2 separate regions of the Homo sapiens genome follow, and region 2 is reported to be linked to region 1. The links are microRNA targets in miRTarBase. Many come from high-throughput screens and were not tested one by one. Region 1 holds a microRNA gene; the other region holds the end of a gene's coding sequence.
Evidence for each region. The annotated mature microRNA hsa-miR-205-5p reads UCCUUCAUUCCACCGGAGUCUG and lies in region 1 at 2,545-2,566, opposite strand. An mRNA with a match to its seed (bases 2 to 7 or 8) in the 3' UTR can be bound and repressed. Matches are read on the target gene's strand: a 7mer-m8 pairs with bases 2 to 8, a 7mer-A1 pairs with bases 2 to 7 and ends in A, and an 8mer does both.

Region 1 (8,394 bases):
TGGAGAGCCTTTGCCAATACACATTTTCTCGTGTACTGGGAAACTGGAGCCCGGATGCGATATATTATTGATAGGATTGTAATTTACTCCTCTTGGGTTGTATCTACAGTGTATACCATTAGCACAAAATATTAAATTACCAGTGGTTGTATATATTTGTCTATCCAGGTTTGGCTCAATGATATTTGCCTTTTGCCTCAATAAAAGATTGTGAATAATGAAAGCAGGGTAATATTATTTTGTTGTTGTTGTTGTTGCAAGGGAATTTTGATGAAACCATTTTCTCTGTGTTGTGTTTTTGGCGAGTCATGCTTTGCAATGAAGACATGAGACATAAAAGAGTGGGGGTTGGACATAGAAGATGGATGAGCAGCTTGCTCCAGCTCTGGGCACACACTGGCTTCCCTGGCAAGCTGCTCTGGGCCAGGCTTGGGGCTTTCTTTTTCTGCAAGAGGGAATAAGCAATCTGTGCTGCATTGGTGGGAGGAAGTGGGCAGTTCAGACCTTGGTGCCAGAAATACCAAGCCCTGTGCCTCTCTTGTGAAGATAGCATTTGCATGGGACTTTGGGTGTGGGGGAACCCAACAGCACATCAGGTAGAACCTTTTGTAGTCACAGCATTGTGCCCTGGCTAGTGTTTGACAGTCTACCCTCTGGTCACCATTGTTGGCCATTTTGGTTCCTGCCTCCACCTGGGCCAGGTGGCACATAAATACACAAGCACTTATCTCCTATAAAAAGATTCCAGGTCATAGGGCTCAAACCAAGCTGCAAATAAAAGTGCCACATCGTGTCTGTCGTGTGCTTTTTGTTCTGATCTCAGGGCTTGTTTCAGACCTTGAATGGGAGGTGTTTGCTGGTTAACTAGGAGTTTGCTGGACAAACAGCACCCCACAGTTGGATTTGCTACGCAATTTTTATGAGTAAACATGTTTTTAAAAAATGCCTGTGGCTTGGCTTCTTCATCCTTTTGTTGCCTGTGGGTCTTGGAATGAAGGGGTGGGGGTGACAGAAACTAGGTTTTAAATCTGTATTAACTTGACACAGAAAAATATTTTGGAGAAAGGTTTATTCCTTTTAGTTCCTGCTGGCAATCTGGGACCCTCAGGGGTCAAAAACCAGGGAAGGGTTGGGGGAAGGTGAAGAGACCTATCCCCCTCAGAGGTCACTGGCTGGGGGGCAGGGCTTGGCCATTCAAGTGATCGGTATCCATCTGCAAAGCTGGAATCTCCTTTAGAGTGAGCTCCTAAGAAAAACACCACTCAGCCAAGGAGAGCTATTGTATTTTGCTGCCTGGGGCACATTCTGGAGGTGAAAACCGGTTTTTCTGAAGACTTGTCAGGGCCAGGCTTTGTTCAGAATCTGCCAATTTAGCCAGACTGGCTCCTTAAAGGAGACCCCTTTACCTGAGGCAGGGGCCAATTATAAAAAAGGCTTGTGGATGGCATTCCCTTCATAACTGGGTTGGACTTCCTTCAGACTTAGGAACTTTCTCTTGTTCCACACCTTCTCCTTCCTTAAAAAGGAGAAACATGGAGTAACACACACACACACACACACACACACACACACACACACGCACACCCAATCACACTGAATTGTAAAGAGAATGAAATCAGTGCTAAATCTATCAAAGCGTATCATAGACCCTGACAGCTGAGAGGTATTATTTGCTTTTTTCCTCCCAGATTTCTACCGAGCCTGGTGTTTTAAGCTATGTCTTGGGGAGAAGAGACCCATAGAAAGGCAATTACAATTGGTGAATGATTAATGTTGGATCTGACATTTTTATGTGTCAAATATGTTTAACTGCATTAACCTTTGCAGAATCTACACCCATACTATGAGATATATCTTGTATAGCATCGGAAATATCTGCAATCTGCCTTCACTTAAATTTTATTTACATTTACTTTATTACAATATAAATAGGTTTAAAAAATCTTTAATAGAGTGTTTTTACCCCATTCTGCAAGTTCTGCTTGCTCTGTGGGGAGTCTAAGGGCAGCAGGGTTCCTTGCTGATTGCAAATAGTGTCCCAGCCACCTGCCTGGGGACCCTAAAGAGAGAGGAAGCCAGTGTCAATTTTTCAAGTTCATGTCTCAGTTTTAGCCTAAAGGGGAGGTGGCTTAGAAGGCCGGGAGTTGGCATCCGATGGTATAAAACATAGAGGCAGAGAGGCTTTTCAGTAGACAAGCAACTTTTAGTTTTTACAAGTTACAGAAAACGCAAATTTTCATAGCATCAATTTTAGAAAAGAAAGATTAAGGTTCCCATCTGCGGTGCTTTTTCCAATCTGCCCATCACCCGTCCCTCTGAAGAAGCACGCACACTCCAGATGTCTCCTTCATTGATCACATTTCTCTCTGGCTGTCTCTATTCCTAAGTCAGAGTTACTCTTGCTGCTGCTGCTGCTGCTGCTGCTGCTGCTGCTGCTGCTACGGTGGTGGCGGCGGCGGTGGTGGCGGTGGCTGCCGAGGCCTCATGGTTGTCAGCTCCATGCCTCCTGAACTTCACTCCACTGAAATCTGGTTGGGTATGAGACAGACTCCGGTGGAATGAAGGACAAGAGAAGCACATGGATTGTCTGAGGATCTTTTTCTCAGAGGGTGGGGATGCATGTCAACCTCAGCCTGTAGACACTGCATTACCTGGCCAAAGGCCTTTGGCATCCCGGAATCACACATTTGGGAGATGTCAAGGACCTGAATACTCCTACCCCTCCCATAGGATCACATCCTCCAAGGAGGCTGCAGAGAGCTAGTTCAACACGTCCTTGCACCTGCTGCACAGACAGACAGTGCTGAGTTGGGGAGGTGGGTCTGTGGGGCCAGGGACTCTTGACTGTTTCTCGTTTTCAAAACAGCCACCCAGATAAGTCCATGTGGAACCTCCTCTGTGTTTACCTAGTTGGGATGTCGGTCACCCTCTCCCTTTGTCTAGGTCCCACTGTGTGTGCCATAACTGAGCTCGGTGTGGTTGGTCCTTTCTAGAGGAAACAAAGAAAAAGCAGGTGTTCTGCAATTGCTTTAGAAAAATCCAGCTACTCTGAGCTTGCTTACCAAGGCCTTGGAATGCAGGGGCATGGGCATTCCTCTCCACAAGGCACTGTCCAAAGAGCACGAAGAGCACTTTGCAACCCCGTTTGCCAATGTGAAATCCAGAAGAGATAGGTGAGGAGCTCAGGAAAAACCACAACTCCTGGCTGGAGCCAGGCCCATTCATGGGGGTGGGTGGACAGAGGAGGGTAAGACTCCTTGTTCTCACTCCTAAAGACTTATCTAGGAAGGACAGCCTCCAATGGCCCCACATCCTCCCCAAGATGTGCCTGGAAAATGATTCAACTATTTCTTTGTTGGTCATGAGGATGGAGGATTTAGGGAGGAAGAAAGCAAGCTAACCTGGCTTTCATAGACTGAGTCAAATAGGAAGGACGCAAAGTATCTAAGAGTTTTCTGCTCTGTCTTAAAAGAAATGCCCATCAACCCTTTGCGTGCTGTTGCTGCTCTGGCCTCTTCCTTGTTGTGTTCAGACATGCCCATGGCTCAGTGCAAGCCCCATAAAAGGCTGTTCTCAGCACCAACATGCAGGCTGGATGGGTTGGGGCAGATGCACCTTGTTGTTTGAAATACTTTCTTCCTGGGGCTTGTTCTGACCCGAAGCAGGGAGGCAGTTTCTCGTATGTGGCTCCTCCCCACGCATCTAGCCTTCTGGGCATTGGGTCTCTCTGAAAAAGGCCCTTAAGCAAGGGCTTGAGGTTTCTAGCTAGTGCTGAGAAGGAGTCACACTCTCCTTGGTCTGAATGTAAAGACTCTTTGCCAGGGTGAACACGGGGCTTGTTGGCAGGCAGAGATCTGGGTAGTGAGGGGAAGAAGACTGGTTCATCTTCTCCTGCTCTGCCTTCTTGATAAACACTCACAGTTCTCAATAATGAGAGGAAAATGCACCCTGCTTGTGAATTATCTGGACCAGATCCTCCTCCTGCACCGCCTTTGACCCATTCCCAGTCAAAGGGAAGAAAGAGGCCAGTCTGTTGGCTGTAATAAATAAATGATGGCCTGGGATGGTAGGAGGAAATGATGCCAGGAAGGCAAGATTCTTTGCCTTCTCTTTAGATTTCTGCTTAACTCCAAGAGCAAAAGGGGCAGTCAATTCTTCTCCCTCCAGACCCTCGGCACCCCGCTCTTCCCCTCCCAACATGTACAGTCCACTAGATTATTAAAGTCCTCACTCTGGAGTGTGCAGAGAGCCTCACCCTCATGTGGGGTCCGTACCCTCCAAGATGGGTACTTGAGAGATGACAGTGTCTGCAAAAAGCAAATGGGAGGTGGCATTAATGTCAGAGAGCCCCAGAAAGGTGAGTTCTTTCCTTATCACTCTCCCCTTGCTTTACAGACCTGTAGCTGCTACAGGCAGAGACAAAAAACCATGAGTCACAACCTGTATCAGGAGACTTGACCTGCTCTGGACTCCTTGTTCAAGATTCTTCTGCCCACTATGCCTTTGCCAACTGAATCCCCCAGTGGCCTTCACCATGGTTACATGGGTCTAGAGCCAAGCACATGCACGATCAGAGAACAAACCATGCATGGGCTCGCTACAGGGTAAGTCCATCCAGTGACCACTTTCTTCCCCCCAGCTGCCCTCAGGATTACGTCCCAAGTGTCTTCATAACATTAAAACCAACTTGAACATGAGACTCAAAGAATGAAACCACGTCCTAAATTTTCCAGTACAGGTGCACCCTGCACCCCAGGACTGAAAAACCAGCCAAATCTCTGTTCTTCTAGTTGAGTAAATCTCCACAAAACCAGACAGAGCTACAATCTTGGTGCTTAAACTGCTCAGCACCCACCTTATCACACCAATTCCTATTATCAGCAGAATTTACTGCCTGGGATCCCTGGAAATCCTTGAGAAAACACCAAAGTGGCTGAGGATTGGTTTAAAATGCAGCAGGTTCAGCTATTTTAGCCTTGGAGGAAGTTGATAATTGACTTGCAGTGAATATGGCATTTTCCAGTCTCCTCTTCCTGCCCAATGAGCCCCCTGATCTAGCCACTCATCTTTGTTTTTCCAAAGTTCCCCAAATCCACAGATTTCAGACTCACCTTTAAGTACGAGTACCTGTGCCTTGAGACATCAGGACCTAGCTTTGAGTTTGCTTCAAAATAAGAATTTTTTTTTTTTGTCATAAGATAATGCAGAACAGAGAGATGGCTACAGCCATGCAGATGAGAAGAAGAAAAGAAATTTCAAATCTTGGATGTTTCTTTTGCCCCTAAGGCTTGAGGACAGGGAACAAAAAATGAGAAACACTTACCCTATATAAAGCACCCAGTTCAGCAGGCCTGTGCGGAACAGAAATGACTCCTGAGGAAAGGTGGGGGCCGGTCCTGAATAGTTGATTTCTCTCTTTAATGAAAAAGAACATGAGGCCGGATGCGGTGGCTCACGCCTGTGATCCCAACACTTTGGGAGGCCGAGGCAGGTGGATTGCTTAAGCTCAGGAGTTCAAGACCAGTCTGGGCAACATGGTGAAACCCCGCCTCTACAAAAAAATACAAAAAATTAGTCAGGCGTGGTGGTGTGCGCTTGTAGTCCCAGCTACTTGAGGGGCTGAGGCAGGAGAATCGCTTGAACCTGGGAGGTTGAGGCTGCAGTGAGCCCAAGATTGAGCCACTGCACTCCTGCCCGGGCGACAAAGTGAGACCCTGTCAGAAAAAAAAAAAAAGTAAGCAGAGGAAAGTGGAATTGAAGGAGAGGGAGTAAAGGTAGCTGGAAAAGAGAGAGTTTGGAGTATGGTTGAGAATTGAGCTGAATTTTTAGAATAGAGATTAGTAACAGACAATAAAAGAGAAACTGGTTTTTCCAAGTCAAGGGTGAGCAAGAGGGACTCAGCCCATTTCAAGGAGGTGGTACTAGTTTCACTCTTTATTTATGCACCTCTCAGCAAAGCTTCAGGTTACCTGCTGAACTCAACCAATGGAGAAAGGGCCTGGCAGCTGGTCCCACCTCTCAGAACCCACACCCCTGGGGGACCATGAATGGAGAGGTCTTTCTGCAGGCTACCCGTACTTTCTCATTGTTGTGTGAACACCAGAAAAGGGAAGTGAGGTCTTTGTCATCCCAGAGTTGGAGAGACACTGCAGGTTATCTGAGCCTTGCACCTGAAGCCTTAGTCCTCCCAGAGACCTACCTAATCGGGGAGAGGGGAATGCTAAGATTTTATCTTGTCCTAAGGAAGCTGAGTGTTTGTGTGTGTGTGTGTGTGTGTGCGCGCGTGTGTGTGCGCGCTTGCTTGCTTGAGCTTTTAGCCTGACCTGAGTTGCTGTCTCTACACAATGCACTTCGGGAATCCAGCAGAGATAGGCCAGTCCATCCAGGCAGAGCTGTAGAAAGAGGCCGGAGGGTCACAGTCGAGGCCCAGCCAGAGGCTTATCCTGGCATTTAGTACAGAGTAAGTCTGCTGCTCCCCTTGTGAGAAGCAAGTGTTTCTTTTATAATCCGAAAGGCTTTGTGACCTGCTTCCCTTTCATGTCTGGGGGTGGGGAAAAGACCACACTGCGAGGGGAAATTAAGGAAAGAGAAGGCAAGCTCATTAGTAACTTTAAAGAGGGCGGTCTATAAACTTGATTATTTTACCCCACCCCCGCTTCCATGCGCAACTTGGGCTCCGCCTCCTGCCCCTCCCCTATCTCTCGGCCCATCTTGCCAGCTTCCCCCTCCCTCGTTCCCCCTTCCAAGTGCACACCTGGAGGGCAAGGGAAGTTGAAGTCTCCTCAAATGTGCCACATTTCACCCAGGATCCTGGCCTGCTTTCCATTTGTTCTCCAGGTAAATCTAGTGTGCAGCGAAGGCAGATTCCTCTATTCTCCAGCGGAAGGGAGGGAACTGAAGAATCCAATCTATAGGACCTCTTAGTGCAGTCCTGTCCCACAGCCCTTCATGGAACTGAATCATGCCTGCCCAAAATCTCCCTAGAAATCAGCTAATCTAAACTTCTTACCGCATAGACTGGGGAACAGAAGTTTTGAAAGGTGAATTTCTGTCTTGCACAGCCAGTGCAGAGTCAAGATTCTAATCTACCTGGATCTCCCAAACCCCATTTAAAAGCCCTTTAAAACAAACCCTACACGTTGTTTTCCCCGGTTCTGGCGGACCTGAAGCTTGTCTGAACTATTCTGGATTCTTCCTGGGAGAAGAAAAGCCTCCACTGGTGAAGAAGAAAAACCAATACAGACCAATAGGAGGAGGGCAGGGAGATCTTCCACGTGATAGCTTCCTTAAGCACCGGACTCCTCCCCTAAACCGTGGAGCTCATGGCTTCCCTGCTGACTGGACCCAGTTTGCCTACACTGAGCCTCAGCTCTCCCATTTCCCAAAAAGTAATGCAGGCAGAGAAGCGAATTGTTCCTGGCCACAGTGATACACCCACATTGTGTGCTGAAGACTCTGGGCCCCCTTCTGACCTTTCCCTGCTCCCTCTCTCCCTCTTCCTTCCAGAATAGCATTCATTCATTCATTCACTTACTCACTCTCCCCATCACGTATCATTCCATGAGCATCGACTCTGTGCCAGGTGAGTGAGAGGCTGCGTTTACCCCCTAGGAGCTCCCAGCCTAGATGGACATCTACAAGAAGAGGCAAAAACATAGGCCAATGAGGAAAAACATGATGAATATCCCCCACAAAGGGAACTGCCGCATTTGTCTGTGAGATTCAGGGAAGGCTCTACAGACAGAGTGACATATTGGAACTGAATCTGAAAAAATGATGGCGGGCTGAGTGTGATGAAGACCTGCGAAAATTCAGGCCTTGAGGGAGGAGCTCTCACATGTTCAGAGCAGCCTGGGGTGCCGGGGACTGGAGAGCGCAGCCATCTTGTGATGGGCCTGTGGATTTCATTCACAGGTCAGGAAGCTCCGGAAGTCTCGAGACAGGGAATGAATGGACCAGAACTGTTTTTCAGAAGCCAGTTAGGACTGGAGGCAGAGCAACTGACTGCTGAGGAATATGACTGCCCCCAAAATATAGGGGAGAGGAGGGTAAGGAGGAGTGCCTAGGGCAGACGATATCAATAGTCCTGCTGGTCATATTCTGTCCCCTTGAGGGTTCATCTTTGACCTCTAAATTTGTTCAGAAAAATGGGATAAACCTATAGATTTATTGATTCTATATCCATCCAATACAGTAAAGAAAGACGACCTGCCCAAAATTATTATTATATTTTCTTCCCTTCAACTTCAGTCACCACAGCCCAGGAGGATGCTCTGTGGACTGACTGGACACTGGTTGGTGTGGAAGGTCTAGAGGGTGGGGGAAGCATATCTGGGTGGCTCTGCTGGAAGTTTCTTCTTCCAGCCCCTCAGCCTGGCTCTTTGTTCCAGAGTC
Region 2 (8,394 bases), not on the chromosome of region 1:
TTGACAGCGGGTGCCCAGCAGCTGCAGGAGTATTGACTGATAAGACACTCCATCTCCAGGCAGCCCAGGGAGGCCTCCCTACCCCGCCTGAACACCTCCCTGTCGCTCCTTGTTCATCTTGTTCTGACTGCGGGGGGCGGCCAGGCCCAATTCCTCTTCGAGAGTGTGCCCCATCCAGACAGCCTGAGTCTTCAGCAAACAGAAACCCTTAGGTCTTACTCATACCCCCTCAAGCCGAGTTTCCATTTCTCACCTGTGGGCAGAAATGAGGCAGATGTGTGGTTGCCTTCATCACGTGGCCAGAAAGTAATATGGCTCACTGGGCCACCCCAGGACCTTTCTCAGAGATGCTCCGATACAGAAAGATCCTTCAGCTATGGCCCCAGGCCTTGGTGAGAGACAGGCACTCGATGGTATAGTTCTGTCCCCATGTCGGTGCAGGTGTATGGAATGGCAGGGCCTGCAGGTGAGACGCACCCGGTTCTCATAGGCCCTTGAGCCAGGGGAAGCAGTAGGAGGGAATTGAGTTGAGGTGAGGACTGAGGCTGTTGCCACACAAACTGTGCTCAGTTTCTGCAGGTGAGACGGTGGCAGAGATGCCTGTTTTTGCCAATGTCAGACATTTACCTACTTAGTGACACCTGATTCAGGTGACTGTGACAATGTTTTCAGTCCTTTACCAACCTGCGGGGAGAGACAAGAACCCAGAAACAGGCTCTGTTGGGGAGAATACGGTGAAGTGTTCCTGATGATTGAGTTCCTGGCGTCCAGGTGCTTGTCGCATTGTCCTCGTGTTCACGAAGGTGGATGGTGCTTGTTTTATAGCTAAGGAAACACATTTGGAAGGTCAGTCATTGTCCAGGGTACCTGCCTAGACAATCACAGTGCTGGGACCCCTGCCTGGCACCCTCTGGCTCTGAGCCTCGCACTCCTGACCGCAGCTCAGTCCCACCCACCTGCTCAGCAAGGCGTCCCCAGCAAGGCACCCAGAACCCGCATGTGTAGAGAGACTCCTCGGCAGGGCTGATGGAGCGACAGGTCGGGGTTTCTCTAACAAGCACTTTCCTGGAAACTTCATTTTAACATGTTCCCATCTCCCTCAGAAAAAGGGCATCGAGAAGAACCTGGGCATCGGCAAAGTCTCCTCTTTTGAGGAGAAGATGATCTCGGATGCCATCCCCGAGCTGAAGGCCTCCATCAAGAAGGGGGAAGATTTCGTGAAGACCCTGAAGTGAGCCGCTGTGACGGGTGGCCAGTTTCCTTAATTTATGAAGGCATCATGTCACTGCAAAGCCGTTGCAGATAAACTTTGTATTTTAATTTGCTTTGGTGATGATTACTGTATTGACATCATCATGCCTTCCAAATTGTGGGTGGCTCTGTGGGCGCATCAATAAAAGCCGTCCTTGATTTTATTTTTCAAGGTCCCTTCTGTAAATGCTGTGCTTTCTTCCCTGTGAGAGCCAACTTTAGAGTGTCTGCTACCTCTTCATTACCAATCAGAATTAGATGATGTTTAACTGTTAGACTGAAGCGTGACGCTTTCATCAGTAGCTTCAAGAAAGTCTAAATTGTTAATTTATGGAATTGGACACAGTATTCAGTTTACCCGTACATGCTCCTCCCGCCCCTCCTGTTGGCACCCTTGCATCGCCCAGGCCTGATTCCTCCTGGGGGTAGTTCACCCCCACGGGTTCATAGTTCAGCGGCGAATGCCAGGCAGCTGTTTTCTGGCTGAGCAAACAGCACCTTTCTCATTGAGCTTCCTCTACTGACCTCTGTCCCCCTTGGGATTTCATCTTCTGACCGAACCCTGATGTTCAGTGGCAGAGACAGCCCATAGCCAGAACTGTGGGTAGACCAGGGTTGGGGTGTGCGGTTTGGGACAGCCCAAACCCCAGCCGCTGTGTCAAGGCCTAGGACGCCATGCTGCCATCAAAAGGGGGTTCCAGGTTTCCATCAGTGGCCTAAAGAAGGGACTTCTTGTTGTACTGAGGAGTGCGGAATTAAAGAGATTTGACTCCCTTTAGTATTGGGGGCAGTCCGTTCCCCAGACACTGTGGCCTCTGAAGTGGAAACTGAAAGCTGCATACCTGGGAAAGAACTTTCTAGGAATAGGCAATGGCCTTCAGTGGAAGAGGGAGGGCTGGAGGTGTGCCCAGTACTTGGATGTTCATCTGTCCACAACAGCTTTTTGTTTTTTTAAAAAAGCTAAAATGGAAATGGATTTTATCATAAAGGATGACATCGTTTTCTTCTACAATTAATACATGTTCATTGTATAAAACCCAAAAAGCAGCTAAAAAATAAAGCGGGAAAGGAACTACTGGTAATACTTGTCCTCTCTTGCATATTTCATAGGTTGAGAGAATGAAGCCTGCTCTGCAGGTTATCTGCTACTGTAACAATCCCAGCCCTCTCCACTCTGGTGGCTTTTAGGCTATTTCTGTTCCTATCTCCCGACGCTGGGGGTTGACAGGACTCAGCTGGGTGGTTACATGCCCACAGCTCCCACTGCAGTCACTGGAGGCTTGGCTGGACTGGAGCACGCGAGGCTGGTGTTTGGGAGATGCCCGGACAGCTGGCCTTTTCCCCGAGGTCTTGGGCCTCTCATTCTTCACAACGCATCTACAGCAAGGTCCATATGTTTGTTGAATGACTCAGTTCCCACAAGCAAAAGCAGAAGCTGCCAGGCTCTAAGGCTTGGGCTGAGAACTGGCCCAGCTTCGCTTGCGCTGCATTCTCTAGGTTAGAGTAAGTTACAAGGCCCCCAATGACATGGGCAGGAACCACACAAGGGTGTGGCTGCGGGAGACCTGACTCTGATGGCCATTTATGGAGATGAGCTGCCCCCCACTTCTTTCACTGTGTGTATTTGCCCTTGTCACTTTTCTAAATTTTTCTTTAGAGACAGGGTCTCTGTCGCACAGGCTGGAGTGCAGTGGTGTGATCATGGCTCACTGCAGCCTCCAACCCCTGGGCTCAAGCGATCCTCCCACCTCAGCCTCCCCAGTAGCTGGGACTATGGGTGCCTGCCACCACGCCCGGCTAATTTTATAATTTTTTGTAGAGACCGGGGTGGGGGTGACCGGGCGCGGTGGCTCACGCCTGTAATCCCAGCACTTTGGGAGGCCGAGGCAGGCAGATCACGAGGTCAGGAGATCGAGACCATCCTGGCTAACACGGTGAAACCCCTTCTCTACTAAAAATACAAAAAATTAGCTGGGCGTGGTGGCGGGTGCCTATAGTCCCACCTCCTCAGGAGGCTGAGGCAGGAGAATGGCATGAACCTGGGGGGCGAAGCTTGCAGTGAGCCAAGATTGCACCACTGCACTCCAGCCTGGGCGACAGAGCCAGACTCCGTCTCAAAAAAAAAAAAAAAAACAAGATATCAGGGTGGGAGGACTTGCTCTGTTGCCCAGGCTGGTCCTCCTGGCCTCAATCAATCCTCCCACCTCGGCCTCCCAAAGTGTTGGGATTACACGCATGAGCCACTGTGCCCTGCCATTCTTTTCACAGCTGGATAACCTTGAGGGTGGATAATTCGGTGTTTTTGTTTTTCACTGCTGTAGAGAGCAGAACTCTGAGCGTGGTACTTTAGCATTGTTTCCTCCTGGTGGTTCTATATGCAGAGCACTATGCTGGCTGTATTTGGGGTACATTTGCCATTTTATGGGATCCTTGCAACAACCCTGACAGGACCTGGGACTCAAGCTAAGTCAGGTTGTGTCTTGGTTGAGGGTGGTCACTACCTCTCTCCATAAACCAGGGGCTACCCCTTAAGAACCTCCCAGAGAGTTCACTCAGGATACTCCCACTAAGGTGGGAGGACTGCTTGAGCCCAGGAGCTTGAGGTTGCTGTGAGCTGTGACTGTGCCACTACACTCCAGCCTGGGAGACAGAGAGAGACCTGTCCCAAAAAAAAAAAAAAAAAAAAAAAAAAGCGCATTTCTGGTTCCATCTCAGAAATTCAGCTCTAGCATCCTAAAGGGAGGACCTGGAATGTAGAATATCCTAGATTCTTTCAGATGATGATGAAGGGGCCTGGAGATACTGGCCGTCCCTGGGCTATTCACCCTCTAGCTCCTGCCTTCCAGGGCTAAAGACGAGTCAGGTACTGAGAATCCACAAGACAAACACAGAGGAAGTACCGTGGGACTCCAGAGGAGGGCAAGGTTACTTCATGTCTTGGCAGAGCATCAAGGAGGACTTCCCCTATCAAGATCTCTAGGAGGAGGGAAAAGGAGGAGGAGGAGATGGCATACGCTCTGGCTCTGCAGGCTGGGCAGGATTTCAACCAGCAGGGAGGGTGGGATGGGCGTCATAGGCAGCTGCCGGAGCAGACAGGCTGAAGAGCTTGTGGATGGCAGGAACAGGGCGTCCCAGGAGCTGAGCAGGATGGTGACACGGTGGCCAAGGCTGCTCACACTCCACCAAGGACGGGTTGGCAGGGGGGTCCCTGGAGCCTGCTGCTGGGCCCAGATTCTGATTTTTTTAATTTAAATTTTTATTTTATTTTGAGACGGAGTCTTGCTCTGTCGCCCAAGCTGGAGTGCAGTGGTGTGATCTCGGCTCACTGCAACCTCTCTGGCCCAGGTTCAAGCAGTTCTGCCTCAGCCTCCCAAGTAGATGGGACTACATGCACGCCACTACCACAGCCAGATAATTTTTGTATAGTAGATGGGGTTTCTCCATGTTGGTCAAGCTGGTCTCAAACTCCTAACCTCAAGTAATCTGCCCGCCTTGCCCTCCCAAAGTGCTGGGATTACAGGCGTGAGCCACCGCACCCGGCCCAGATTCTGCATTTTCTAGTCAGCTTCCCAGCAATGCCTGAGCTGCAGGTGCACACGAACTAGGAGTGACGTGAAGGCAGGGACCACTCGGATGCTAAAGACCAGAGATGGGGTGGTGGTGAGTAGGAGGGGGGATGATAGGGACATGGAGGAGAAACAGCATCTCCCAGCACCATTTCTGCCACCCAGAACTCCATCAGGAAGTTGTCAGTGTGGATGAAACTCACCACACGTCTACTTCCAAGCTCCAATTATCCGTCCTCCCATCCTTCTGGCCACCTCCTCACACAGAACTCCTGTCCTCCTCTGTGAGGAAAAAAAGACCAGTGGCTGCATGTATGGTGTTAAGGACCAAAATGATGTGGCCAAGGCCTTTGCCACGGGAAGCCAAGAACCAGTCTTTGTTTTTTGTTTTGTTGAGACGGAGTCTCGCTTTGTCGCCCAGGCTGGAGCGCAGTGGCAAGCTCTCGGCTCACTGCAACCTCTGTGTTATGAGTAAAATGTTTATTCAGAAACAAAATGCTTCTTCCCCAGTACTGCAAGGAAAAATCAGCATTTAGACAAAGAAGTTTTCTCAGTAAGGTAATTTTACTTTCTGGAGAAAAGAGGGAAGCAATTTTTATCCTTTATGCAGCTTGTCCTTGCTACTGTGTGTTGTCTCCATTGACTGGAGCTAGAAATTACAATTTAAACTGAACCTGATTGGCTAACAACTTAAAACACTGCTAAATAGGTAAAACTAATGGAGAATAAAGAAAAAGAGGAAGTTGCTTATGAAAAGACATAGAAAAGTTATAACATTTCCTGCCGGACGCGGTGGCTCACACCTGTAATCCCAGCAGTTTGGGAGGCTGAGGTGGGCGGATCACGAGGTCAGGAGATCGAGGCCATCCTGGCTAACACGGTGAAACCGTGTCTCTACTAAAAAAATACAAAAAATTAGCTGGGCATGGTGGCACACGCCTGTAGTCCCAGCTACTTGGGAGGGTGAGGCAGGTGAATCGCTTGAACCTGGGAGGCAGAGGTTGCAGGGAGCTGAGACTGTGCCACTGCACCCCAGCCTGGGCAACAGAGTGAGAGACTGTCAAAAAAAAAAAAAAAAGGACATTCCAAAATAAGGAACGCAGCAAGCTAAGACATCCCTGTGAGCACAGCCAGCAAACATACCTTGGTTTAAGTACAAGAACATAGACTGTACTATGTGCCTGTAAGCATGTGTAGCACAAATATATTGTTTAAAGTACAAGGACATAGACTGTACTTACTCTTTTCTATCTAACAGCTACACAGTATAGGGCTTAACAGTTATTAGCACAAAGCAAGGAGGTCTCAAGGAAGCTAATTTTTAAAAAATTATTTCTAAAACTTATGATTTATTCTTTATGAAGAAGGGAAACTTTGAAAAGGAAACTTTTAACATTGTACACTCCGCCTCACGGGATCAAGAAATTCTCCTGCCTTAGCCTCCCGAGCAGCTGGGATTACTGGCACCCACGGAGAAACCGCTGTCAGGCAGTGGCTGGGACTCTTCAGGCCGCCAGGGAGCCGAAGGCGGGGCCTGAGAGGCCTCACTTCGAGGAGCCTGGGGCCTACAAAGGCTGCCAGGAGCTGGGCAGGAGCTGGGCCGAACGTGGCTGTTGCGAGGCAGGAGCTGGGCCGGCAGGCGCAGCCGGCAAGGAGAGCTGGGCCTGGAGAGGCTGGCTGGAAACACTTCTGGGCCTGGAGAGGATGGCCAGAGGCGAGAGCCGGGCCCGTGGAGGCTGCCCACAGGCAGAACACGAGCCTGGCCTGAGGCGGCCATGCTGAGGCAAGAGCTGGGCCTGGTGGGGGTCCACTGTGAGGAGGCAGAGGCCGTGCCTCAAGTCCAGGGGCCTACGACAGGCAGGAGCTGGGCCTGGCGAGGCCGACTTCAGGACACTTTGGGCCCGCACAGGCCATCGGCCGGGGGGCAGCAGCTGGGCCCTGGAGGGGCCCACTTGAGAAACCCTTGGCCGGGAGACGCCGTCGGGGCGGGCGGGAGCTGGGCCTGGAGAGGCCACCGTGAGGCTTGAGCTGGACCTCCAGAGCCCAGTGAGAGGCATGCGATGGGCTTGTCGAGGCCGCTGGGAGGCTGGCAGGAACACGGCCGGGGAAGGCCACCGTGAGGCAAGATCTGGCCCCGGGGAGGCCACTGCGAGGCCACAGGTGGGCCTGGAGAGCTGGGCTGGAGGAGGTTTTGGTCGTACGAATGCTGCCGGGATCTGGGCACGAGCCGAGTCAGAAGCAGCTGTCTGCAGGCTGGGGCTGGGCATGGAGGCGCAGCCGCGAGAGAGTGCTGGGCCTGGAGAGTAGGCTGGGAGGCAGCCACCGGGCCGTGGTGGTGGCTTGCCAACTTGGGCCTGCAGAGGCTGCCACGAGGGAAAAGCCGGGCCTCTGAAAGAGGCCGTTCAGAGGGATGAGCCAGGCCTAAAGAGGTCATCGGGATGCAGGAGCCGGGCCTGCGGAGGCCGCCAAAAAGCAGGAGCCTGGCCTGGGGGAGGTCACGGTGAGGCACGAGATGAGCCCAAAGAGGCCGTCGGGAGGCAAGAGCCAGGTCTGTCGGGGCTGCCGCGAGGCAGGTGGCAACGTGGCCTGGGGAGACCGACGTGAGGCACGAGCCGGGCCCGGAGAGGCCGCTGTCACGAGGAGCTGCGCCTCTCCAGGCCGCCGGGGAGCCGAAGGTGGGGCCTGAGAGGCCTCACTTCGAGGAGCCTGGGGCCTACAAAGGCTGCCAGGAGCTGGGCAGGAGCTGAGCCGAACGTGGCTGTTGCGAGGCAGGAGCTGGGCCGGCAGGCGCAGCCGGGAGGGAGAGCTGGGCCTGGAGAGGCTGGCTGGAAACAGTTCTGGGCCTGGAGAGGCTGGCTGGAAACACTTCTGGGCCTGGAGAGGATGGCCAGAGGCGAGAGCTGGGCCCGTGGAGGCTGCCCACAGGCAGAACACAAGCCTGGCCTGAGGCGGCCACGCTGAGGCAAGAGCTGGGCCTGGCGGGGGTCCACTGTGAGGAGGCAGAGGCCGTGCCTCAAGTCCAGAGGCCTACGACAGGCAGGAGCTGGGCCTGGCGAGGCCAACTTCAAGACGCTTTGGGTTTGCACAGGCCATTGGTTGGGGTGCAGCAGCTGGGCCCTGGAGGGGCCCACTTGAAATAGCCTTGGGCCAGGAGATGCTGTTGGGGCGGGCGGCAGCTGGGCCTGGAGAGGCCACCGTGAGGCGTCAGCTGGGCCTCAAGAGCCCAGTGTGAGGCAGGCGCTGGGCTTGTCGAGGCCGCCGGGAGGCCGGCAGGAACACGGACGGGGAAGGCCGCCGTGAGGCAAGAGCTGGGCCCGGGGAGGCTGCTGCGAGGCCACTGGTGGGCCTGGAGAGCTGGGCTGGAGGAGGTTTCGGGCCTACGAAGGCCGCCGGGATCTGGGCACAAACCGAGTCAGAAGCGGCTGTCTGCAGGTGGGGGTTGGGCCTGGAGGTGCAGCCGCGAGAGAGCGCTGGGCCTGGAGAGGAGGCCGAGAGGTAGCCACCGGGCCGTCGCGGTGGCTTGCCCACTTGGGCCTGTAGAGGCCGCCACGAGGGAAAAGCCAGGCCTCTGAAAGAG

Region 2: the mRNA of MDH2 is a reported target of hsa-miR-205-5p. Seed matches in the 3' UTR shown: 7mer-m8 at 1,269-1,275.

Annotation. Positions count from the first base shown.
Region 1 is chr1:209,426,338-209,434,731 of GRCh38, reverse strand. It overlaps MIR205 (microRNA 205), which reads right to left and starts at 2,599; the gene lies at 2,490-2,599. MIR205HG (MIR205 host gene) reads right to left here and starts at 5,912. Exons shown (of 4, transcript NR_145437.1): 1 at 5,644-5,912; 2 at 5,324-5,551; 3 at 4,256-4,307; 4 at 2,183-2,528. RefSeq lists enhancers at 561-1,160, 1,161-1,758, 5,991-6,914.
Region 2 is chr7:76,065,176-76,073,569 of GRCh38, forward strand. It overlaps MDH2 (malate dehydrogenase 2), which reads left to right. Exons shown (of 9, transcript NM_005918.4): 9 at 1,104-2,333. The coding sequence ends at 1,235. Among named protein-coding and RNA genes, the nearest start is that of MDH2, 21 kb to the left of the region's middle. RefSeq lists enhancers at 124-193, 224-273, 6,049-6,573.